Linked DNA regions of Homo sapiens. The protein of the gene in region 4 interacts with the protein of the main gene of each other region in a pairwise test. Each region holds a gene or a part of one and is shown on either strand. Other genes may lie near its edges. The genes, in order: STRN, STK24, STK26 and CTTNBP2NL.

Region 1 (7,038 bases), on a different chromosome or scaffold from region 4:
GGGGAAGAGTTTGCAGTAATCTCTGGTCTTTGTCCCCCCTTATTAGTGTAATTGGAAAAAAAATTATTACCATCGTTACATTTGAATCTTCTTTATTTTTCTTTTGCTACTGGAATTTTCTTAGAAACACAATAGGAAGTAAAATAGTTGAATGCGTTGTGATGAAATACGGCTCAGTTGGTGTCCTCCTTTTAATTTTTAAATCTCTTCCTAAGCCATTAACACCAGAGTCAACACAAATACCTTTAAGATGAAGTCAAATTTGCCTCTTCAAGAACCTGTCAGTCCTGCTCTTTCAGGTTGCCAGGGAAGACTTGTGAAAGGCAATCCAAGCTCTCATCTGCCTGGCCTGCCTTTACTGCTTCCTCCCTCCTTCAGATCTTGGGAGTAAGGAAAGGGCCACGTTATAGCAAAAACCTATTTATTTGTCACTTATTTCACTCTTGCTCATCTTATTTGATAAATTCTCTTTTTATTTTTGGTAATGCTCCCCTCCTCACATCCAGTTGAGATTAGGCAGTAGTTCATGGGGGGAAAAAAAGAATGATTAAGATTATTAGTGAGCTTTACATTTGTGAAAGGAATTGGAGAAGGAATACTAATAATATTTGAGAAAAATTTCTGTATGTGAGGCATTGTGCTAGATGACCTCAAAGAAACATGCAGTCTAGTTATTAGTACGATATAACTTGTAGAAGAATCAGAGTGTTTATCATTTGGGGAGAAGGCTAATTTCTTTAGAATAGTGAAGGAGAGGCCGGGCGCGGTGGCTCACACCTGTAATCCCCAGCACTTTGGGAGGCCAAGGCAGGCGGATCGTGAGGTCAAGATATCGAGACCGTCCTGGCCAACATGGTGAAACCTTGTCTCTGCTAAAAATACAAAAATTAGCTGAGCATGGTGGTGTGTGCTGGAGGCTGAGGCAGGAGAATCGCTTGAACCTGGGAGGCGGAGGTTGCAGTGAGCTGAGATCGTGCCACTGCACTCCAGCCTGGCGACAGAATGAGACTCCATCTTAAGAAAAAAAAAAAGAATAGTGAAGGAGAGAAGAGCCAGCAGTGAATGGGGAGAATAGCAGGAGTAAAGAACTTTATGAGTTCATGAGAACCTAAGGCTCAGTATTTGAAAATTACTGACTTATGAGAAAGCAGGCATGTAAATAAAAAATAAAAAATGTTGGCCCTAGATTTTGATATGTGTGTGGTGTGTGGTGTAGGAGAGGCCCTGATATTTACCTGTAAGTGTTAGAGTTGTATGAAAAAGGTGGCAAGATTGAGTAGCTTAGGGCATGTGGTGTGGAGGCTGTATGCTAGAGTTTTGGCATTAATAACTTGTATTTTCTGGGTTTTGGCATTAATAATTTGTATTTTCACTCCCCAAATATTTTTCAAGCATCTACTTCATGCCAGACCTTGTTCTAGATACCGGAGATACAACAGCAAAAATACAGATCTTGCCCTTATGAAGCTTAAATTGTTGAGGCAGGCAGACAGTGATAAATAAATACATAGAATGTTGGGAAAGAAAATAAGAGGATTTGAGAGGGTGGAATGGGGAAGAAAGGATTCACTGATAAGATGCCATTCGAGCTAAGACCTGAAAAGGTGATCTCTAAGGTGAGGAAAGAGCTTTCTACACAGAAGGAACAGCTGGGGGAAGGGAGCACGCTTGGAATATTTAAGGAATATCAAGGAGGGAAAAGTGGCTAGAGTAGAGGAAGAGAATGGAAGAAGTCATGTCAAACAGGTACTAATGGAAGAAGTCATGTCAGACAGGGTCTTGCCCATTGTAAGGACTTTGGCCTTATACCTCAGCAAGCTGAGCAGCCGTCGGAATGTTTTAAGCAAAAGAGTGACACCATCTTTAAAAGGGACCCCTTGTAAGGATTCAGAACAGACTTGGAGGGAAAACAAGTAGAAGCAGCAGGGGGACTAGTTAGGAGGCTACTTTAATAAATCCAGGCAGAAGATGAACTAAGGTGGTAGTGATAAGATATGTGAATATGTATTTGATACGTATTCAAAATACAGGATTCTGAATACATTTTTAAAGGTAGAGCCAACAAGATGTGCTAAAGGATAGAATGTGGGGTTTGAGAAAAAGGGGAGTCAAAGATGACTTAACAGTTTTTAGAGGGCCAGGTGCAGTGGCTCAAAACCTGTAATCCTGTAATCCCAGTACTTTTGGGATTGAGGCTGAGGCAGGAGGATCACTTGAGTCTAGGAGTTCAAGACTAGCCTGGGCAACATGGCAAAACCCCATCTCCAGAAAAAAAAATTTTTTTAATTAGCCGGGTTAGTCCCAGCTACTTGGGAGGCTGAGGTGGGAGGATTGCTTGGGCCTGGGAGGTTGAAGCTGCAGTGAGTCATGATCACTCCACTGCACTCCAGCCTGGGCGACAGAAGGAGACCCTGTCTCAGAAAAAAAAAAAAAAAAAAAAAAAAAAAGTGCAGCCTGGGCAACATGGTGAAGCCCCATCTCTACAAAAAATTCACAAAGTTAGCTGGGTGCGTTGGCATGCGTCTGTGGTCCCAGCTACTCGTGAGGCTGAGATGGGAGGATTGCTTGAGCCCTGGAGATCAAGGCTGCACTGCGTTATGATCATGCCCCTGCACTCTAGCCTGGGTGCCAGAGTGAGGCCCTGTCTCAGAACAAATCAATCAAACAAACAAACAAACAAAAATACATGGATATAGAGAGAATGAGCAGCCTCATAGGACAGCTGAGAAGATTTACTGAGCTTTTTAATGGAAAACATAAATACTTAAAATGAGTTTGTCTTTATTATTGTGACTATTATTTATAATTATCACAAAAGGCAATATGGCAGAGACCTGGGTTTAAAATTCTTGCTTTAAAACTTACTATTGTATTTTACGCCTAAAATACATATTTGCCGTAATTCTGATCTCTCAGAGCCTTAGTTTTCTCATGTGTAAGTTAAGGATAATAAATTACCTTGTGAGAATTAAATTAAGATAATTTAAAGTACTTAGCAGAGGCATGGTACATAAGATAAAGTAAGTGCTTAATAAATGGTTGCAGATGCATGATGCTAAACTTTTGCTCTCGGTTATCTCCTCATCCCCAGAGAAAAGCATAATCTTCAGTCATGAACTTTTCTGAGGCTGGAGCATACAAGTGCCATCCTGAGGCCATGCAGTGTAATATTCTGGGTCTGACCCAGGCACTAAGAGATATTTAATGGGAGTGAATGGTTGCCTTCAGTGTCAGCCTCAGAACATTGAGGATATACTTCAAGTGTATTTGCTTTCCTTTTAATAACCCAGTAGGTATCTGTTACCTTGAAATTCATATAAACTTTTCTGAATGTGTTTATCTTAACTTTGCATTACATCATGGGTAACAAATTGTGTAAATTTACTAACCACATTATGAAATGAATCCTACATTTTATTTGGCTCTTTAAGCCACTTCCTTTACATGTGGAGCAGGTGAACTCCATTGTCATATGGTATAATTTTGTCAGCAGGTTCATTTTTCATTCTACTCATATTCTTGATAATTTCATAATCTTTATATTTTAGAAAGGTTATAGAGGCTTTAATCTTTTAAAACGTATCCTATTATTTGTCTCTTCAGTTCAGTGTTTCTCAACCTTAGCTATAATCTTAGAATAATCAGAGGGAATGAATACTAATTCCCTGGACTCTACCCCAGATCAATTAAATCAGAATCTTAGGAATGAGGACCCCTAGCATTAGTATTTTTTGAGCTCCCCAGTATACAGCAAGGATTGAGAACCACTGCTTTAGTTGTTTTTTTCTGTTTTTACATTATCTATAAAAGTTTGGTGATTTCAACACTTTTATTAGTATTCCCTATATGGATGGCTTTTTATAGAATTTGGGATATAATTTCTTTTTCCATTGTTCTTTCTGATGATAGCATTTTATTTTTAGGCAGTAGAATATTATAATTTGAATCACCTCCTTCTGACTGAGATGTAATGACAGAGTAATCTTTGAGCTGGAATGAACTTTGGAAATAATCAGCTCAGTTAGGTAAAGTGAGGTTCAGAGGGAGGCTGAATGACCAAGAATGAAATAGGTTTTGTACAAGCTGTCACTTACATCTCCAGATATCTTTACAGTTTTATTTTTTCATATTTTTTGTCTAGGGGCCAGGCTAATCATCTGTATCATTCCAATTTGAGTATATGTACTGCTACAGCCAGCACTCTTTACAGTTTTCTTTAAAGCCCTTTCAGATACACTGTACCATTTAAACTGTACAACCTTCTGAGGTAAGCAGAGCCACACTGATGCTTATTTATTTATTTTTTTTAGATAACAGGCATAAAGATTTTACTGTGTTTTACTGCTTTCTAGCTTATTTTATTGGTTGCATTTAAGATTTTCTCTGTCTTTGGTGTTATGTAGTTTCATTATGATGTGTCACAGTATAGATTTCTTTTTCTTTTTTTGAGATGGAGTCTAGCTGTGTCGCCCAGGCTGGAGTGCAGTGGCACAATCTCGGCTCACTGCAACCTCCGCCTCCTGGGTTCAAGCAATTCTCCTGCCTCAGCCTCCCGAGTAGCTGGGACTACAGACGCCCGCCACCATGCCCTGCTAATTTTTTGTATTTTTGGTAGAGATGGGGTTTCACTGTGTCAGCTAGGATGGTCTCTATCTGACCTCGTGATCCGCCCGCCTCAGCCTCCCAAGTGTTGGGATTAGAGGCGTGAGCTACCACACCCAGCCTATATTTCTTTTTATTTTGTTTGGGACTTCATTAGACTCCTTGAATTTGTGGATTGGCTTCTCATTAGTTCTGCAGATTTCTCAGTTGCTATCTTGTTAGGTTTGTCCTCGATTGCATTTTCCTTTCTTCTCCTTTTGGGTTTTTGATTACATGATCTTAGGGCTTCTCCATTATCTGCTCTGTATTTTCCATCTTTTTATCTCTCCATGCTTTATTCTCGATAATTTATTCTGACTTATTTTCCAGTCTGTGAATGACATATCTTCCACTCCATTAATTTTCTCTTCAGTTGAGTCTGATTTGTTAAAACCATCCACTGAATTTTTAGTTTTGGTTATTGTTGAAGTTCATTTTGGTTTCTTTTCAAATCTGCTCGGTCATTTCTTAAAAAAATATTGTTCTGTTCTCTGCAGGTATTTTCAGTGTCATCTTTAATTCTTTAAACATAGTAAGTAGTTATTTTTTAGTTAGTGTCTTTGCGTTTCCTTTATCTGAGGTCTTAGAGGTGCCTTTGTGTGGTCTGTTGTCTCTGCTGGTTCTTGTTCATGACGACGTGTTCCCTTGTATCCTTAGTTTACCTTTGTGTGCCGCCTGCTGTCCTTGAAAAACTGTGAGACTAGACAGGCACGGTGGCTCATGCTTGTAATACCAGCACTTTGGGAGGCTGAGGCGGGCAGATCACCTGAGGTCCGGAGTTCAAGACCAGCTTGGCCAACATGGTGAAACCCCGTCTCTACTAAAAATATAAAAATTAGCCAGGTGTGTTGGCACATGCTTGTAATCCCAGTTTCTCAGGAGGCTGAGGCAGGAGAATCACTTGAACCCAGGAGGCGGAGCTTGCAGTGAGCCAAGATCGCGCCACTGTACTCCAGCCTGGGCAACAGAGTGAGACTGTCTCAAAAAAAAAAAAAAAAAAAAAATTAGCTGGGCGTCGTGATGGGCGCCTGTAATCCCAGCTACTCGGGGGGCTGAGGCAGGAGAATCACCTGAACCTGGGAGGCAGAGGTTGCAGTGAGCCGAGATTGCACCACTGCAATCCAGCCTGGGCAACAGAGACTCCACCTCAAAAAAAAAAAAAAAAAAAAAAAAAAAAGACAAAAAGAAGAACTATGAGACTAATCTGAGCTCTCAAATAAAGGTATCTTCTTCAGAAAGGTTTTTTTTTGTTTGTTTTTTGTTTTTTACATTTCCTTCTGGTAGATGTCTAGAGTTATTACCAGTCTGGGGCCACTTTATTTTTTATTTTTATTTTTTGAGATGGTCTTACTGTCACCCAGGCTGGAGTGCAGTGGTGTGATCTTGGCTTACTGCAACCTCTGCCTTCCAGGTTCCAGCGATTCTTGTGCCTCAGCCTCCGGAGTGGCTGGGACTATAGGTGTGCACCACCACGCCTGGCTAATTTTTGTATTTTTAGTAGAGACGAGGTTTTGCCATGTTGGCCAGGCTTGTCTTGAACCCCTGGCCTCAAGTGATCTGCCCGCCTCCGCCTCCCAAAGTGCTGGAATTACAGACGTGAGCCACTGCCAGGCCTGGAATCACTTTAAAGTAAATGCATTACTTAAGATGTTTGGGCCACCCAGCTGATGTGAATTTTGGTTGTGAATACATTTGAGGGCCAATATACTTCTGTTTTGTCTTTGCTTTGAAGACATAAGCCCTTTAGGGATCTAGCTAAATGTGAGGTATATCACCTATTAGACTGTCCACTCTGGAGGGGTAGGGTGTTTGATTTTTGCTCCTTGAGTCCTGCAAGGCTGTTTGTTGTGATTGGTCAATATCCTAAGGGCAAAAATGGCTTTTTGTTCCTTTACCTCACTGGGTTCCCATTTTCCCTTTTATTTTGGCCAGATAATTCCTTCCTATTTTTGTGTTGCTTTTAAGAAAATTGTGAAAATATTTTGTCCAGAATTTTTGGCTGCGTTCAGTAGAAGAATTGTTGTGGGGCACCATAACTGGAAACTGAATTCTCTTATTTTACTTTCAAAATCTGACAAATAAGAATGGCCCTACTAATTTTTGGGGGAGAAATAATGTTGACAGACAGCACTTCTTTATCAAGAGATGTGCCTATTTAGTCCTGAACTTTATTTCAAATCTACTTTTCTTTGAATGGTAAAGGGAGACCTACAGTTTTTCTCCAAAATCTTGATAACTGAAGCAGAGTTTAAAACAAACAAAACCCTTTGCTATGCAGTCAATGAAAGGTGTTTGAAAGTTCAGATAATCTGGATAGAGTCCCCTTTGCCCACCTGCTATCTCCTTGATGTCAGCTATACTTTTGATTTGCTAATGTGTGTAGCATCCAGGTTTCAA
Region 2 (3,461 bases), on a different chromosome or scaffold from region 4:
TGGTTGGTAATCTGCCACTTCAGCAGAAGAGCAAGGGAACAGCCAGCACCCAGGCGTTCCTGAGGTACAGTGGAGACCCACTGGCCTGGGCACTCACTCAGTGTGGAGCTGGAAGTACCTTGCTGCAGTGACACTGCCCGCTCCATTGGAGCAGTTAGGAGCGAGGTGGCCTCTGGTTGCTGGGGAGAACGCTACCTCCTATTTTCATGGACATGGCAGAGAATGGCGGGACGTGTCCCATCCTGCTTAGTGGAAGCTCTCCCTTCCTTTTTTCTTTTTCTTTTTTTTTTGAGACAGGGTCTGGCTCTGTCACTCATACTGGAGTTCAGTGGTGCAGTTATCGCCCACTGTAGCTACCTCCTGGGCTCAATCGATCCTCCAGCCTTGGCCTCCCAGGAGATGGGACTACAGGCTTGCACCACCACGCCCAAATCTCCCTTTTTATATATTTGTGTATTTGCTCTCTACCGGTGCTTCTCAAATGGGTGCAATGCTGTCCCATTTGGTAAAGTCTGGAGACATTTTTAGATGTCCCAACTGAGGGGTTGCTGCGGGCATCTAGTGGGTGGCCAGGGATGCCGCTGAACATCCTGCACAATGCAGGACGGACTCCCCAAATTACCTGGCCTTGTCCCAGGCCTTTCAGGATCTGGACTGCAAGGCTGGACCCTTTGTCACAATAATAGCAAAATCCCAACTTTGATCAACCCAGCTCTCAACCCAGCTCTCGAGCTCAGTCCAGGATCAGATTTGAGAATGGCTCTCCTCTAGGTTCCTTTTTCAGGTGATGTTGTTTAGGAGGTGCTCAGCATATTGCTGAGGACCCCTCCCCTTCTGCCTCCCGGGGCGAGGAGGGCTCAGCAGGGCAAACTGCACAAGTAGTCGGCTTGGGGATGCAATTTGCAGAGGCCCAGGATCTCTATTCAAAATATGAATTGCAGGAACAGTCTTAGGCCTGACTGTTGCATTTCTTTCTTGGCTAAATGAAGTCTGCAGTCCCTGCCATTACACCATGTAGGCAGTCTCACTGGGGCTTAGCTTCATCATCCCGGACACGTTATGTCAGAGATCTCCAAGCAAGATGTCTAGGGCCTCAGCCAACACCGTGCAGGGTAAGGGCGCAGGGAAGTTGGGACCCCACTTTCTGCCATGAGAACAGAATCGCCTGCTGGTGTCGGGCAGTGGGACCCCAGGTCTAAACGCTTAGTTGGCAGGGAAGGGTGGGGCCATCTCACTCGCTGACTTGGGAGAAATCCTGATGTTTGGAAGAGGGGGTCCTCTTCTGCAGGGCCCTGTGCGTGGGAAGGGGGTGTCTACCTTTCGAACGTGTACTCGCTTTCCGCCCTGAAGTAGTAGACGTGGGACTTGAAGTGCAGCTTGAACACGTAGTCTTTCTGGATGTTCTCGGACTCAGAGGGGATGGTGAGCGAGTAGCCGAGCAGAGGCAGGCTGGCAAGGGGATGATTGTCCTGGAAAGGGGAAACAAAGCAAAGTGGCTTTTCGGGGTCAGCTTCTGCTGCTGGGCCTGGCTGCTGCCCCGCATCAGACAGGGACTTGGGAGCCCAGGCAGCTCCCTCCTCGGGCGTGGGCCTGGAAGGGACCATGGCAGCCAGTGTTTGCCTGTACGTGATGGCCCGGGTGGCAAGTCCCGCCAGGACTGAGCTGTAGATAAAGCCAACCCCCGTCCCTTGTCCAGGCAGAAGACAGGTGGCCCTTCCTAGGGCAGAAGTTGTCCTTCAGTGGATGATAATGTCAGTCTTCCCTAGAGTTGAGGGCCTCGGGTGGACAGGGCCCCCCGCCAGCATCCCTGTCATCCCCGTGACACCTGGAGCCCAAGAGGCCTGAGTCATTCCAGAGGAGGGCGGCCCCCTCACCTCATGCTGCCACCCCCAAGGTCCCAGGGCCACCTGCCCTGTGCGAGACACTTACCTGGTGTGATTTGTAGAAGAACAGGCAGAAGTTTGTGAACACCACCCACAGCTTCTGCCACCCGTTGCTGTTTTTGAATTTCCTCAGCAGGTTTCCAGACAACTGATTCTGAAAGGCAAGGAGGCCTGTGAGAAGCACAGCGGGCACCTGCCCCAGGAGGGCACAGAGAGCAGCTCTCCCTGCACCAGGGCCCTGGGCTGGGGCATGTCCGTGACTGAAGGATGTGGGCCCCACCCCCGCTCCCCCGTGTGTGGGGAGACTTGGCAGGTCCTGGGACCCTGATCTCATCACTTCCCCTTGTCACTTGCTGTGGGGCATCTTGGGGTCCCTGTGTCCCCCCAAAAGACACGTTGAGGTCCTGACTACCAGTACCTTAGAACACAGGCTTATTTGGAAATAGGCTCGTTGCAGGGTAACTAGTGAAGACGAGATCACACTGGGGTAGGGTGGGCCCTAAATCCAACGGGAGTGGTGTCCTGAGGAGAAGAGCCACCTTGAGGGGAGAGGGGTGTGCCCTGTGACACCGAGGCAGAAATGGGGGCGCAGGACCCCATGCATTGCCAGCAGGCGGAAGCTGAAGGAGGGAAAGATCCATCCCAACAAGCTCAGAGCAGCACTCGTTTTGAGGGGCCAGGCACCCTACCCAGGAAGTGGGGCCTGGGGTGCATGTGAGTGGCTCCCACATGCCCTCTAGTGGCCCAGGAGGCAGTTGCAGCCCTGCCCACCTCCAGGCTCAGGGCCGGCCCAGCCCCTGGAGCATTGTTAGGATGCGCTGCAGCCCAGCTAGGGGGCAGGGACAGGCACCTGTGTCCATGCTACCTCCAAACAACTCTGAGCAGGCCTGACGCACTGGTGGCTCATTTCGTCCCTTTGCCAAAGTGACATCACCAGCAGAGACTCAAAGCAGTTGCACCACCTTGTAAAGGCACTTAATGCCACTGAATTGTTCCCGTAAAAATCGTTAAGTTGGCCAATATTGTGGTATAGCTATTTTACCACAATAAAAAATACAGACCTCCGAGTCTGCCTCATTCCATCTCTCTGGGTGCCCCTGGCACTAAGCTTCTGTGCTGGGAGCTGGGATCAAATGGTCTGATGTCCCTGCCCTCCAGTTGCTCAGGGAGGGTCCAGTGGGAGACATGGACACTGACAGTAGGTCCGTGAGGGGCTGCAGGATGTGGGGGACCCCGCAGACGGGGAGAAAGGGCATTCCAGGCCAGGCAGGCAGCTCCAGCCATCCATCCTCCTCCCCCAGTGGCAGAAAGGAACAAGAAAATGCAAGGCTCCAGGTTCCCAGAAGGTCCTGGTGGTGGCCAGGGCTGGGCTGATGCCCATGCGGCATCTTGGGTCACGCAACATGGAGCAAGGAGGGTGGCACACTCCCCTTTCCTAGGTATTTTCATACTGACTCACATAATTTTCACACAGCAGCCAGCCCACAGTGGGGTTCATACATGTCACCCATCACAGTCTGGGCCCATTTGTTTCCAAAGCAGCTTCCTTAGCGCTCTCTAGCTTCTGCCTGGCCATTC
Region 3 (7,038 bases), on a different chromosome or scaffold from region 4:
TTGTAAGAACCACTTTTTTCTTCTCTTGAAAAAAGTATAAAGGTACATCAGAGTCACAATTCTCAGGTTGCGAGTGCCTAGGTTCTATACACAAATACAAGTTATATGAACCTTTCCTGGAACTCCTCTTCCCTCACCAGTATTGTGGGAATTTATTTCCTCTATTTCCTAATGTAGACTTCACTGCTAACCAAGACTCTCAGCTTTCTGCTCACAGTGCCTGCTGGCCATCTATGTCAGGACAGAGTGGATGTCAAGATTAGTGGAGGAAGTGGTAGGGGAATATTGTTCCTCCCTTTCTCTTACAAATTCTACATAGTGTCAGCATATGGAAAGGAGAATCATTTTGTCTTAATTAACTGAGCCCTCCCTTCATGATCGCTAACCCTAGGCCACATCCCATTCCCCACACTACAATGTCAGTTCCACTCTGATTCTTCAACCCTCTCCCATCCCCTAAGCACTCATCATCATGTCACTGGGTTCCATTCTCTGCCTTGATAAAGTCACATCCTCATGGAGATGCCTGGAAATTTTAAATTGGACTCCTGAATACCTCCCAGGGATTTTTGAGTTTGAGGGCTACTGGCAGTAGCTTGAGAATCTTCACCCCGCAGCTGGGGTTGTAAAGGTGAGAAATGTGTTTCTGGCATCCCAAGTTGAGGCACCATGCTGAATATATTTTCCTACTTGAAATATTGTTAAGATATAAATAGTAGTGAGTTTCTCTGGTACTTTTTATGCTATACTACGAATGAATACATTTGTGTGAAATTGTCTTTTGGGAGGACTACCCCAGGAACTTAGACATTATTTTTATGGGAAAATGCTTGCTTTTAAAATTCTGAACATCTTACTTAAAAACCAACTTTTGGAACACAGTCCAGTCACTACTTGGCTGCTGCCAGTATAGTAAAGCCAACCATTCTACTTCCAGTCAGCTCTTTGGTCCCACAAAAATTCAGAGAATACCACTCATGAAATGGTATGGAGAGAGAGGTGTCCCTTGTATTTAAGCTATAGCTAAAATAAAAAGGGTTTAATGGTTTATTCCAGTGTTTAACTGATGGTACTGAATGGTATGTGTGTGTGTACACCTGTTTTAGAATTTGTATACATATATTCCTCCCAGGAGCCCCATTTCCTCTTGTTCAGCTCACAGGGAAGTTAATTCCACCTGGAGAAAGCACAGATTTTTAAAGCTACACTCTCCCTTTTTCTTATCCATTTACATCAGAGGTAAAATGAACAATATTCTTTCTAGGTTCCGTGTGTGCCAAAAATGCCCATTAACCGTAGCTGATAAAAGTTTGAAGTACATCAAAACAAATGAAAGCCAACAACTGAAATAAGGCAAAATATCCATTGTCCTCAAACTCAAACCCAAAATTTCTACAAGCCCTCATTTACCTCCTCATTCTTTAATGTAACTATCTTTTCTTTCCAATATCATTCAAGATAATTATTTAAAGCTTTGTTTTTTATAAAAATTACTAATAGTTCAACAATAACAAACAGTACTTTTATTTGTTTAGCTATATCATAGGCAAAAAGGTATGCGGGTAGTCTAAGCTCAGAATTTTAATTTGGAATGTTCTATGGAAAAAATATATTCGGGGTTCCCAAGCAACCATTTTTAAACCTACATTTTAGAATCTGTTCTTTATTTTTTTAATTTTTAATTTTTGTGGCTACAAAGAAGGTGTAAATATTTATGGGGGTACATGAGCTATTTTAATAAAGGCATATAATGTATAATGATCACATCAGGGTACATTTACTCTCTGTGTTACAAACAGTCCGGTAATACTTTTCTACTTATTTTTAAAAGTATAATTAAATTATTATTGACTATAGTCACCCTGTTGTGCTATCAAATACTAGATCTTACTCATTTTCTCTAACTACTTTTTGTACCCATTAACCATCACCAACTCCCCCTCCCTACTATCCTTCCCAGCATCTGGTAACCATCCTTCTATTCTCTATCTCCAAGGGTTCAATTGTTTTAATTTTTAGCTCCCACAAATAAATGAGAACATGCAAATAGAATCTGTGCTTTAGTATGTGAGATTTAACATTTTTGCTAGTATGTTATTTTGGCTCAGGTTTGTAATTATTAAATTGTTTCATGGCTTTACAGGGGTCTAAATTATGGATAATAATGGAATACCTGGGCGGTGGTTCAGCACTGGATCTTGTAAGTATTTTAAAATAGTTACACACAGATGCAAATGTGTGCATATGCACATACCTTAATTTTTTAAATTGAAGATTAATGGCTTTTGAGCACGCTAAGTGGTTGCTTTAGTTAATATGTTCAAATTAAATTCTTTTTTCATGACCTCTACCTTATGTAGGTACAGATGTATTGTACGTTTGAACATGTTGCTGGCATTCTAAGACTATATAAGAAATGCAAATAGCTTAATAAAATAAAGTCTCCCAAATTAGAAGGGGATGTGTGTATCCATTGCTGTCAAAGTTTGACTTTTGCAAGCTTATCCCTGAAAAAACTGAGTTTTCTTAGATTTTTAAAAAATATGTAATTGAGATAACTGTCACTAAAAGTGTTTTTTATGAACTGAATGTTTGTGTCCCCCCAAAATTCATATGTGGAAATCCTAACCCCCAATGTGATGGTATTAGGCGGTGGGGACCTTGGGACCTAATTAAGTCATGAAGGTGAGTTCTCATGAATGAGATTCGCACCCTTACAAAAGAGGCCCCAGAGAGCTCTCTGACTTTCTTTCCACCACGAGAGGGTGCAGTGAGAAGAAGGCCTTCTGGAAACCAGGAAGAGTGCCTTTACCAGACTCGAATCTGCCAGCCCCTTGATCTTGGACTTCTTTCCCAGTCTCCAGAACTGTGAGAAATATTGTTTAAGCCACCCAGTCTGTGGTATTCTGCTATAGCACCTGAATTGACTAAGATAGTGGTACTAGGGTTCTAAACAAGGTTGGCCTACAGATCCAGTTCTTCACAGAGTTCTCTCTGCCCCTCTATAGGTTATTTGGAAATGTGATGGCATTTGGGTTGTCACAATGACTTAGAAGTGCTCCTGCCATTTTTGTGGTCATGGATCAGAATGCTAAAATCCTGCAGTGTGCAGGAAAATTCAACCCAATGAAGATGCATTTACACACAGAATGCCTTTGAGAAACACTGGTTGTTCCCCAATTCAGTGTGATCCTATCAATGTTGAGTTTCTTTCCCTTCCTTAAAAATCTTTATTAATATGATACTATGTTTTAAAATTCAGTATGACTTATGAGAGGCAACTTAGTGTAGTAGAATGACCACTGGGCTGGCCTGGGGTGTTTGAGGTTATAGGTCTGGCTCTGTGCCTGTGAACCAGACACAAACTTCCTGGACGTAGGTGTTCTATAAAACAAAGAAGTTGCACTAAGTTATTTCTAAGTTCCCTTCCATCTTTAATATTATATTTTTTTTATTTGCGTGTTTCTGCCTTAGAAATTATAGAGTATGCTGTTTCTAAGAAAGTGTTTTGATTAAAATAATCAAGTAATATTTTAATTCTTATTTTTTTAGGTGGAGATGAGTTTTCCTAACTGAAAGTGATTAAATATTTTTAAAAGGCTTTAACCTTGACTGCCAGTAACTCAAAGCTTCAAATAATTTTATGAACAGAAATGACTATAAGAGATTTTCTTTCCTTTAGGCAGAACCATATTTAAACCATTTTAAAGAAATGGTAATTAAACTTGATGGAGAGCCTCATCTACTACTAGGAATTCATGTCAGTTTAATCAGTTGCTGAATTTGGTAATCTTTCCTTGTGTCTAATCTAATTCTTATATCCTAAAGCCTGAGTTCATTTTTTTTCTCTCGTCTCTAGTGAGAGAACACCACTGATGTTTCTTTGTGTAATAATCCTTCATGCATATGGAGTCAGGCTTCATTCTCCTCTTGAAGTTAAATGATCTCATTTCTATTTGTCTTGTCACAGAGTCATATTATTCAATAGTTTTTTCATTAGCTCTACAAGAAGCCTCTCAATTGTTTCATGATCCTCCTTCCATTTTTTGAATATTAAGAGCCCTTTCCAAATTTATCAGTTGTCTTATCTGGTTCCTCAGGGTGCTCACCATATCTCTTCCCCATTTTGGAAGCACTGGCAAAGCTAGGCCACTCTGTTCAACAGGATCACTGATAGCAATGTTAAACAGTGAACACTGGCCTAACCCCAACCAATGACCCAAATCTGTGTCCCCTATTAGTAGTTTGGTCAGTTTTATGAAATCTCCAAGTTAAATGATTGTGAGATCTTAATCTCATCCTGCTATTCTGAACTCTACTTAATAAAACAAATAGCCATTAATAACAGTTTCAATGAATGAAAAATGTTGTTAGTACTGTATTGGTTAAGAATCAAAAGGCCTAGGTCATAAACCCAGTGCTAACACTGACTGCCTGGCAAATATTGGGCGGCCCTTTAGCCTCCTTGTGTCTTAATTTATTCACATGTTAAATGAAGAAATTGAATCAGTAATCTCTAATTTTGTGTTCTTAGCTCTAAAATTCAATAATATTGTGATTTAATTATAAAACTCATTTAACTAGACTTTACAGGGAGAGCAGATAATGAGAAAATGTGCTATTCCTTTTTCATGTATATTCCTGTACAAATAAATGCTATCATTTGGGGGAATCTAAGACAGGATTAGGTGTAGAGGAAGGCTCTGCTACTAAGAACAAGAGGAAATAAGAGGGATGTTTAGCAGAGAGTGTTTCTCACATTAAACTGGTGCCTGGTACCTAACTAATGGAATAACATAAGATTACAACTTGTCATTTATGTTAACATTATACAGTGTCTACCTTGAGTCACTCCCATTCTTGAAAAACAATTTATTGTATGTGAGCAGACTTTGAGTATATTGCACATCATTTTATTGAGTTTATTATGCTCCACTTCTTTCCAAAAAGAATCGTGGTGGCTTGCAACAAAAACACATATAATAAGATGACTAGAATAAAACATGAGCCCCAAGAAAAAAGAAACAATATGCTAACCATAAGAGAGGGCATAAAATAGCAGACTGCATTAGGGACTGGCTGGAAGTTAAATTGTGACAAAGATCCATGAGCTCACAAATGTACAGTCTTCGAAAGAGTCAAGGTCCCTCTCTTGCATATTCTTACTTGACAACAGAGGCAAATTACACAAGGCAAGTACACTGCCCTGGGACAGAGATATTATCTGTTAGAGACATGGCAAGTTCTTCAGTTATCGGAGAAAAGTTCAAATGGAGAAGTCTCCCTGCCACAGAGTCTTTCTTCCCATCCTCCTCTAGCACCCAGTTAATTGAGATTTCACTTTTATTGAATTTTAACATGAACCTAAAATATAGCAGATAAGCTCATGAATCTTTGGGATCCCCTTTTTGTTGTTTTTACTTAAATATTTTTAAAAACTTCTGTATTAGGTAATATACTGGCTTATTTATGTTACTTTTACATGTCCTTCAGAATGATAGCTAGTAGGTCGTACATTAATCTTGCCCAATCACTGAAATAACCAAGGATATACCTCCCCTGGTCTTGCCAATGTCCTGTGATCAGATGATACTAATTACTGATCTTAAGTAGTGTGACATTTGTCCTTTAGTTATTTTGTAGTACCTCAGAAGTTCATTGCCAGCCATCAACAAAATAGTATGCCATTTTCAACCTTTCTAGAAGACTTTAGAAACTATTTTAATCACTACTGTTTGAATAGAAACTTTGGGGTGGAAGTTGATAGATTTGAAAGTAAGTAGATAATGTTACCTAGGAAAGGGACCTATTGAATTACAGATATCCCTGGAGTATACTATATACCCAGACCACAGTTAATATTAGATGGTGAGACCAAAGTATGAGTTCTATTTTAAGCTGTTAAATTTCAACATGAAAGTGCCCTTTATTCAGCATAAATATGGCATTCATGAAAGATGAAATACACAAGGTGCCAAAGAGCTGTGGATCCCTCCCAGTGTGAGGCAGAGTGGGCAATGTTTGATTTTCACCACCTCTTCCCTCCTTCCAGAAGCAAACAGAACTCTACCTCTGCTCTGACTTTAGATTCCCACCCTTTCCTGTAATAATATTGTACAGTCCACTGTTTGTGCTTTATGAGGTACCAGAATTTTAAAATAACCATTTATTTTAAAGAGGGATTTTCAGATATTCCATTACAAGTTCTCCTGAAACCTAATCATTGCTTTCCTTGTATTCCAGTTGGAACTATTGGCTTTGGTACAGGGATGGGGAAATAAAGGGATATGTGTTACATTTATTTGAAAAACATTATCCCTCCATGATTTAATTTTTTTTTACCATCATAGTCTGAATAGTTTAATTATTATATTCTTGGCTAAATTTACAATTTGAGTCTCAAAAAGGCTATTCTTTGCAATATTATTAAAATACATAAATGCTGACTGATATGATCAAATAGTTGCTGTGGAAATCTTATGGATTCTCTGACCTAAAAATCAGTTTCGTGTCAATATGTAGTAACTTTTTCACAGCAATTGCCTGAATTTAAGTAGCTGATTTCTCTTTTTTTCCATCTAAAGAACAGATAGTTGGTTCTGTCATTACGTAAGCATATTTGTTTCATCTTTGATGTAAATATTCAGGAACCTCAGAATTTGAAGCCTAGTATATAGGTAAAAGGGCTCGTATTATCTTTCATTAAATTGAATCATTAAAAAACCTGTTCAGCCCTTTGACTGAACTCTTTTGCTTTCTTCCTTCACATTTTACATTTTTCCTTCCTTGTTTAGATATTGGTTTGATAAACAGAACGGCATCATGTGTCTAAGTGATTTCTTCATTTCAAAGGTACCAATTTTGAATTTTATGTTTCCAAACTTTTACACATATGTGTATGTGTGTGTGTGTTTTTCCCCTTAAGCTTCGAGCTGGTCCATTTGATGAGTTCCAGATTGCTACCATGCTAAAGGAAATTTTAAAAGGTCTGGACTATCTGCATTCAGAAAAGAAAATTCACCGAGACATAAAAGGTAT
Region 4 (7,038 bases):
TACAATATAATTTAGTTCTTTGTATATGTACCTCTTATTTTTATTTTATTAGAATCTAACAAATAATACTTGGTTTTTACTTAGAAGCTTAAACTAGAACCAAGAAGGACTTCCCAATTGCAAAAGGGCAACTGAAGTTATTTCCGAGGTCATCGATCTTGGCTGTCTGCAGTTTTTGATAGTGCCTTTCTTAAATTCTTTTGAAAAATGAGACAGGATAATAGTTACTAATAATGAAACCAGGTATCAGCAATGTGGTAAGATGTTCTACATTTATTAACTTAATCTTCATAGCAGCCCTATGAGTTAAATATCATCATCCCCCTTTCACAGATTAGAAAACGGAGTCAGATAACTTGCCCAGTCACACAACTAGGAAGATGCAGATGTGGCATCTGACTACCAAGCTACATGTTCTTTCCAATATAACCTCTAATAAAGTGTAGCTTTATTAGGTTTGTTAGAATTTTTTTGTTTAGTTTTGTTTTAGTTTTTATTTTTATTTTTAAAATAAATGTTATCAGATATATCCCTGATACTAAAGTGAACGTCATTTACTAGTTGCTGAAATTCACTTGTTAGAAAATAGAGGCTGGGCGTGGTGGCTCACACCTTTAATCTCAGCACTTTGAGAGGCCAAGGCGGGCGGATCACCTGAGGTCAGGAGTTGGAGACCAGCTTGGCCAACATGGTAAAACCCCATCTCTACTAAAAATACAAAAATTAGCTGGGCATGATGGCATGTGCCTGTAATCCCAGCTACTTGGGAGGCTGAGGCAGGAGAATCGCTGGAACCCGGGAGGCGGAGGTTGCAGTGAGCCAAGACTGCACCATTGCTCTCCAGCCTGGGCAACAAGAGCAAAACTCTGTCTCAAAAAAATAAATAAATAAAAAGAAAAAGAAAAAAAGGCCAGGTGTGGTGGCTCACACCTGTAATCCTAGCACTTTGGGAGACTGAGGTGGGCGGATCACCTGAGGTCAGGAGTTCAAGACCAGCCTTGCCAACATGGTGAAACCCCGTCTCTACTAAAATACAAAAATTAGCCAGGCGTGATGGTGGTTGCCTGTAATCCCAGCTACTCAGAGGCTGAGACTGGAGAAGTACTTGAACCTGGGAGACGGTGGTTGCAGTGAGCCGAAATCACCCCACTGCATTCCAGCCTGGGCAACTGAGTGAGACTCCATCTCAAAAAAAGAAAATTAGCAGTTAGAGCTGAGGTTACATCGAAGATGTTTTACTATGCTTTAAAAGACTTGGACAGCATGTCCTGGAACACAATCTAACAACAAAGTGAAGTATGCATTTTATACATGTTCACTTAAAAGCAGTAGCTCTGGAAGGAATCAATTCTTTTTTTGTGTGCCCCCCAAAATTAAAAAGAGTGATAAATTACTGGAGGATGTGTGAACTGGTCATGTTTTGATTCACTTTCCATAAGAGTGGCAATTTGAAAATAAAAAGTGGAGAGAGAAATATTTGTTCTACTTTGGAAATTATAAAATATATCTTACCATACACACTGGTCAGAAGGCTCTTCCAAGATTGTACAGCAGTCTAACTTGTATCTTTATGTGGTTTGTGAGAATTAGTGTTGTAGAAAGGATTGAGTTTGTGTCATGCAATTTGCCATTTAACATACTTTGGAACATGCAGATTCTCAGAGAAATGTGAACTTACCAAGTCAGATAAATTCAGTTTTTGGTAGCCTAGCCAATTAAGATGTTTAAACAGGCCTGGCACAGTGGCTCATGCCTGTAATCCCAGCACTTTGAAGGCTAAGGTGGGAGGATCACTTGAGCCCAGGAGTTTGAGTCCAGTCTGGGCAACACAGGGAGACCCCATTTCTACAAACAATAAAAAATAAATTAACCAGGCGTGGTGGCATGTATCGGTGATCCTAGCTACTTGGGAGGCTGAGGCGGGAGAATTACTTGAGCCCAGGAGGTTGAGGCTGCAGTGAGCCGTGTTTGCACCACTACACTCCAGCCTGGGTGACAGAGCAAGACCCTGTCTTAAAACAAAAAAAAATAAAGATGTTTAAACCCTATACTTTGAGAATTCATTTAAAAGTAAGTTTGCATATAGTTGAATTAAGTCTATTTTACTATACAAGATATAAATATTGTGTTAGCTATTGTCTGTGAAAGCAGACAATTTAAAAGAAAAATTTCTCCCATACTCCCACCAAACATTATCTCTTTTCCCGAATTTTATTTTAACCAATTGAAGAGGGATATCAGAATGTTTTATATACAGTTTTGGAAATTGGTTATCTAAAACTGGGAAATCTTTTGATGGTCTATCAATTTTTCAGAGAAATGGTATTCATTATAACACAATTTTACCTGAAAAATCAGTGGCTAATTCTTGTTTGCTTTTTTTTTGGTTTTTTTTTTTTGAGACAGAGTCTCACTCTGTCGCCCAGGCTGGAGTACAGTGGCGTGGTCTCGGCTCACTGCAATCTTTGCCTCCCGCGTTCAAGTGATTCCCCTGCCTCAGCCTCCCGAGTAGCTGGGACTACAGGCGTGCCCCACCATGCCCGGCTAATGTTTTGTATTTCAGTAGAGACAGGGTTTTACCATGTTGGCCGGGATGGTCTCGATCTCCTGACTTCGTGGTCCGCCCACCTTAGCCTCCCAAAGTGCTGGGATTACAGGCATGAGCCACTGCACCCAGCCCTAGCGGCTAATTCTTTCTGAGATTTCCTAGGATATTTGTTTGTAAACGTGTCTGGAGGAAATATGATGAAAAATTGATCTTTGTGAGTGGTAGTGAAATCAATAATTAAAGTGAATTTTACTTTCTGTTGTTGCTTAGTTTGTGATTAACACCAGAAAACATATTTCTATTTAATTTCAACTATTTCCTTTATTAAGGCATTTGATACTATAATTGCTCTTATCTCTCACTTTATTTTTTCTTTAATTGTATCAAATTAACTATGTCTTTGGAGATTGTCTGATTGTTACCTTTGTTTCAGGCTTTCAAGATGAATCTGGAAAAACTCAGCAAGCCTGAACTCCTGACACTATTTAGTATTCTTGAAGGAGAGCTTGAAGCAAGGGACCTTGTTATAGAAGCCTTAAAGGTATGTTAAAAGAAAAAAAAAAAGAGGTCATCATACATTGTGAAAGTCATTCATTAGTTTTAATTTATTTAACTAAGGTATTTCTGCAGTTTCCATTGAAATTAAATGGAGGACATACTGATACTTGCCATAGGTAGCCACCTACATTGTGTGTTATTAGGGACACTGGTGAAACCTTTCTGTTTTCAAAATAGTTCCCTTAGTTTCTCGATCTGATGTCTAGACCTTGAACTTCATTCTTTTTTTTTTTTTGAGACGGAGTGTCACTCTGTCGCCAGGCTGGAGTGCAGTGGCGCTATCTCGGCTCACTGCAACTTCTGCCTCCTGCATTCAAGTTCCTGCCCCAGCCTCCTGAGTAGCTGGGACTACAGGCGCACACCACCATGCCCAGCTAATTTTTGTATTTTTAGTAGAGACAGGGTTTCACCATGTTGGCCAGGATGGTCTTGATCTCTTGACCTGGTGATCCGCCCCCGCTTAGCCTCCCAAAGTGCTGAAATTACAGGTGTGAGCCACCACGCCCGGCAGAATTTCATTCTTTTAGTTTAGTGGCCCTTAGCTGTTTTTGAACGCTGACCCCTTTGAGACTTGATAAGAGCAACTTCCTAATAAATGTACATACATCCATATATCAAAATTTGAAATATAATATCTGGGAGATCAAGGATCCCATGAAAACATCCACGGATTCCCTGGACCCCAGATTAAGAATTCTTTTGGTAGTTTTAGCCCATTTCTAATTGTCACTGCTAATTGCCTATTGTTAGTCTCACTTCTTTGCCCCATTTATCATCTGTCTCAATCCCTTCATAATTAGGATAGGAGTGGAGGTAACAGCTGCCTCTAATGGAAAAATCAGAGGATGACCTCGTTTTCTCTTTTATAGTTTTACCGAGATAACCTGTCTGCTTTTCAGCCTTAGAAACTGTACAAACCTGTAGTGCTTTATGTGTCTATTTACTAATCACTGTATCCTCAGCACCCAGCATAGTGCCAGGCATGTAGATGCTCAGTAAATGTTTGTTGAACAAATGAAATGATTGTACCATTGTGGTGTGTTACTTTAAAAGATTACTATAATACTTCTAAGTGGATGTTGTGAATTACTAAATTTTAAAGCCTCTTCTTATGTACTCTGCAGCACATACTGCCTTCTGGTTTTAATGTTAACAGATGCTTAGATGCTTTTTGCACATGTTTTCCTAAAATATATTTTTTTCTTCATGAATCCAATTTTGGTTACTATAGGCAGTTCTGATAAGTTGAGAGAGAAGCTTGAGAAGCAAGAGCTAAAATTAAGGGAGCATTTTGATATAAGATACCATTCAGAATCAGGCACAAGTGTTGTATTTAGTCTGCATATGGTCTGTAGGTGATAAAATTATTCTGAGGCTTAACTCTGTGCAGTTTAGGTGAAATGAATAACTTCACCAGAAGTGACATATCTTTAAACAATCTATTGTTAGATAAAATAGGGGGCAGCCGGGATTAAAATTGTTTCAATCGTTTGAGAAAAGTAACTGCCATAGCATTCTTTAAACTGAAGTATCATTTTATTTATGGAGTTTTGGGGGGTTTTTTGTTGTTATTTGTTTTGGTTCTCCAATGTATCAGGATTTTACTGCATTATTTGTATCGTTTTTGCTTAACAATAAACACCTGTTGGACTTTATGAACTACTATGGCAACTTACCAATTTTCTTCCTTTTAATATTGGTTCTTAATTGATGCTTAGTCGGTTGAAAAGGTTTTGGTCTTTGTTCTAAATAGTTATGATTTGTTTTTCTTTTCTGTTTTGTCTCCAGTAAAAAAAAGCTTATCTTTTTATTTTCTCCCTAGCTTCAAAATAGATTTTTGTCTGGACATAAAATCTGTTCTTTAATCTTATATCTCTAAACAAAACCATATGGCTTACTGTCACTTCTTTGGCAAGGCTTGAGTTTCTTTCAGGATATGTTGTAAAGTTCCCATAGGCTGTAAGTTGACCTCACCTATAGAGTTAGAATTGTAAAAGAGCTACATTCCTATTCCAAAATTTCTGCAAAGTGCCAGATTGCAGCTATACTCTTCTAGAGCCCCCCATAATTACGTTCTTTTTCTTCCCAGAATCCTCCTCACTCACTCTCTATTGCAGCCAAGACATGTTTGGCATAGAACCAGGGAAAGCCAATAGAAAATAATGTAACACATTATTCAGTGTCTTGTATATTTCAAATCTAATTGTTATGGAGGGGACCTATACTATATTTGGTCCTAATTAAATTTTATTTAAAGTGGTTTTCTGTTTTAGAAGGAATCATGTCAGAAAAAAAAAAACTTCTTTATGAACGTCTTTCCCTTTTATTACTTTAATTTCATGAATAAGAACACCAAAGGAATACCCTCTACAATGAAAGCAAATTACATTGCTCATGAACTGTCTGGGGGAAGCAGAGAGTGGAACCACATAGTTCAGCAGGAAAGCCTCAGTTCATTAATTCCAAGCAAATCTAGTAAATGGCTTCCTACCATAGGCTGTGATTGCTTCAGAGGAGAATAAAGGAAGGTTAATCAATGGCCATTTTAAAAAATCTGAAAAATAGATTTGACTGCTAATAAAATTTAGATTAAATAGTTTATTTCTGAATATTCCACATCGGGTATATTACATCTGCACATCTTAGATCTGATGCAAAGCCACACTAAATGGCTTCTGTGACTAAATAGAATCCACCTTGCATTTATTGGTATTGCTTTATTTTAAAGCATTCTTTAAATCATCTATACAATGATAAATGGTGAAATATTACAGCTTTCATGTGCGATTAACTTAAGGAGTCTTGAATTCGTTTCCATTGATGCCTCAATCATAAAATAGGGATATCCTCTTTTAAAACCGAGGATAGAACTTTGTTGTGTTTGGCCAAATGCTGTTGCAAAATCCCCCAAGCAAGAAGATTTACAGGCAAAAATGTTGTAGACATGACAAAGTTAGAAGTATATTTAGAGTATGAGATTATGTAATACATCATTCTATAGGTTTAACTGTTGTGAGTTTTTTCAGCCACAAAGGGTTAAAATGAAAAAATCGAAATGTTATGTCTTTGTTGAAACAAATAATTTACTTTCACTGAAAATATTATTGAAAAAATAATCATAAGGATCTAATGACAGTGCCAAAATATAGAAAACAAAAGTTACCATGGAAGGTGCTGTGGCTTAAGAACATCACAGCTATGATCATATAGTGGTTAGTACTCTGTGTTGTGCCTGCAGCAACCTCAGTTGTATCCAAGTTGTGGCACCAAAAATTAAAAAAAAAATAACAATGCAAGTTCACTATAAGTCCATAGCCTAACATCTGCCTTTGGTCACGGCCTTGTACTTATTATGGAAGCAGATTATTATAAAGACTGGTCTGAAATGAAAAACGTAAAATTGAACTTAGCAATCACCATACATACTAATAAGCCTGTGAAGAGAGTTTGCATTTTTTAAAAAAATCAGATATTAGCTTGCTTGATAACAGATCTTTGAAAGTCTTAAACGGACTCAAGTTGAAACATTCTCTGGCACCCATAAGCCTGGACCTAACAGTTCTTTGGCCAAAAATGATCCCATTTTAATAGATGGTTTTTAGGAAGAGCTTTTAAGATTGGGATGGGTGGTTTCGATCATTGATAAAGATCACATGAACACATGAACATAAGCTATAACTGACAGAAGTCCAATTTCTGTCTAGTTCCCAACTGGGATATTAGGGTGGGAGCAGAACTTTATTTAGGTTACTGAGTTATAAGGTTTTTATATTTACAGTATTCATAACCTTTATTATAAAACGTTAATGAATTAATCAGTGACCATTTGTGGCCACATTTTAATATGTTTTTTAGAGTTGGAGTGGCTTTTTTTTTTTTTTTGAGATGAAGTCTCGCTCTGTTGCCCAGGCTGGAGTGCAATAGCATGGTTT

What was found.
Region 1: the proteins of CTTNBP2NL (region 4) and STRN interact in binary tests that used the Homo sapiens proteins (3 or more experiments, as listed by UniProt).
Region 2: the proteins of CTTNBP2NL (region 4) and STK24 interact in binary tests that used the Homo sapiens proteins (3 or more experiments, as listed by UniProt).
Region 3: the proteins of CTTNBP2NL (region 4) and STK26 interact in binary tests that used the Homo sapiens proteins (3 or more experiments, as listed by UniProt).

Annotation. Positions count from the first base shown.
Region 1 is NC_000002.12:36,956,525-36,963,562, reverse strand, and holds part of STRN (striatin), read left to right. Parts: intron 1-7,038. UniProt on the Homo sapiens protein: Calmodulin-binding scaffolding protein which is the center of the striatin-interacting phosphatase and kinase (STRIPAK) complexes.
Region 2 is NC_000013.11:98,444,674-98,448,134, reverse strand, and holds the end of STK24 (serine/threonine-protein kinase 24 isoform b precursor), read left to right. Parts: 3' UTR 1-1,317; coding exon of another isoform or gene 1,318-1,469; 3' UTR 1,470-1,929; coding exon of another isoform or gene 1,930-2,037; 3' UTR 2,038-2,950; downstream 2,951-3,461. Other genes in the region: FARP1 (FERM, ARHGEF and pleckstrin domain-containing protein 1), read right to left, coding at 1,318-1,469, 1,930-2,037. UniProt on the Homo sapiens protein: Serine/threonine-protein kinase that acts on both serine and threonine residues and promotes apoptosis in response to stress stimuli and caspase activation.
Region 3 is NC_000023.11:132,061,290-132,068,327, forward strand, and holds part of STK26 (serine/threonine-protein kinase 26), read left to right. Parts: intron 1-2,143; coding exon 2,144-2,200; intron 2,201-6,925; coding exon 6,926-7,034; intron 7,035-7,038. UniProt on the Homo sapiens protein: Serine/threonine-protein kinase that acts as a mediator of cell growth. Modulates apoptosis. In association with STK24 negatively regulates Golgi reorientation in polarized cell migration upon RHO activation.
Region 4 is NC_000001.11:112,413,176-112,420,213, forward strand, and holds part of CTTNBP2NL (CTTNBP2 N-terminal-like protein), read left to right. Parts: intron 1-2,981; 5' UTR 2,982-2,990; coding exon 2,991-3,089; intron 3,090-7,038. UniProt on the Homo sapiens protein: Regulates lamellipodial actin dynamics in a CTTN-dependent manner. Associates with core striatin-interacting phosphatase and kinase (STRIPAK) complex to form CTTNBP2NL-STRIPAK complexes.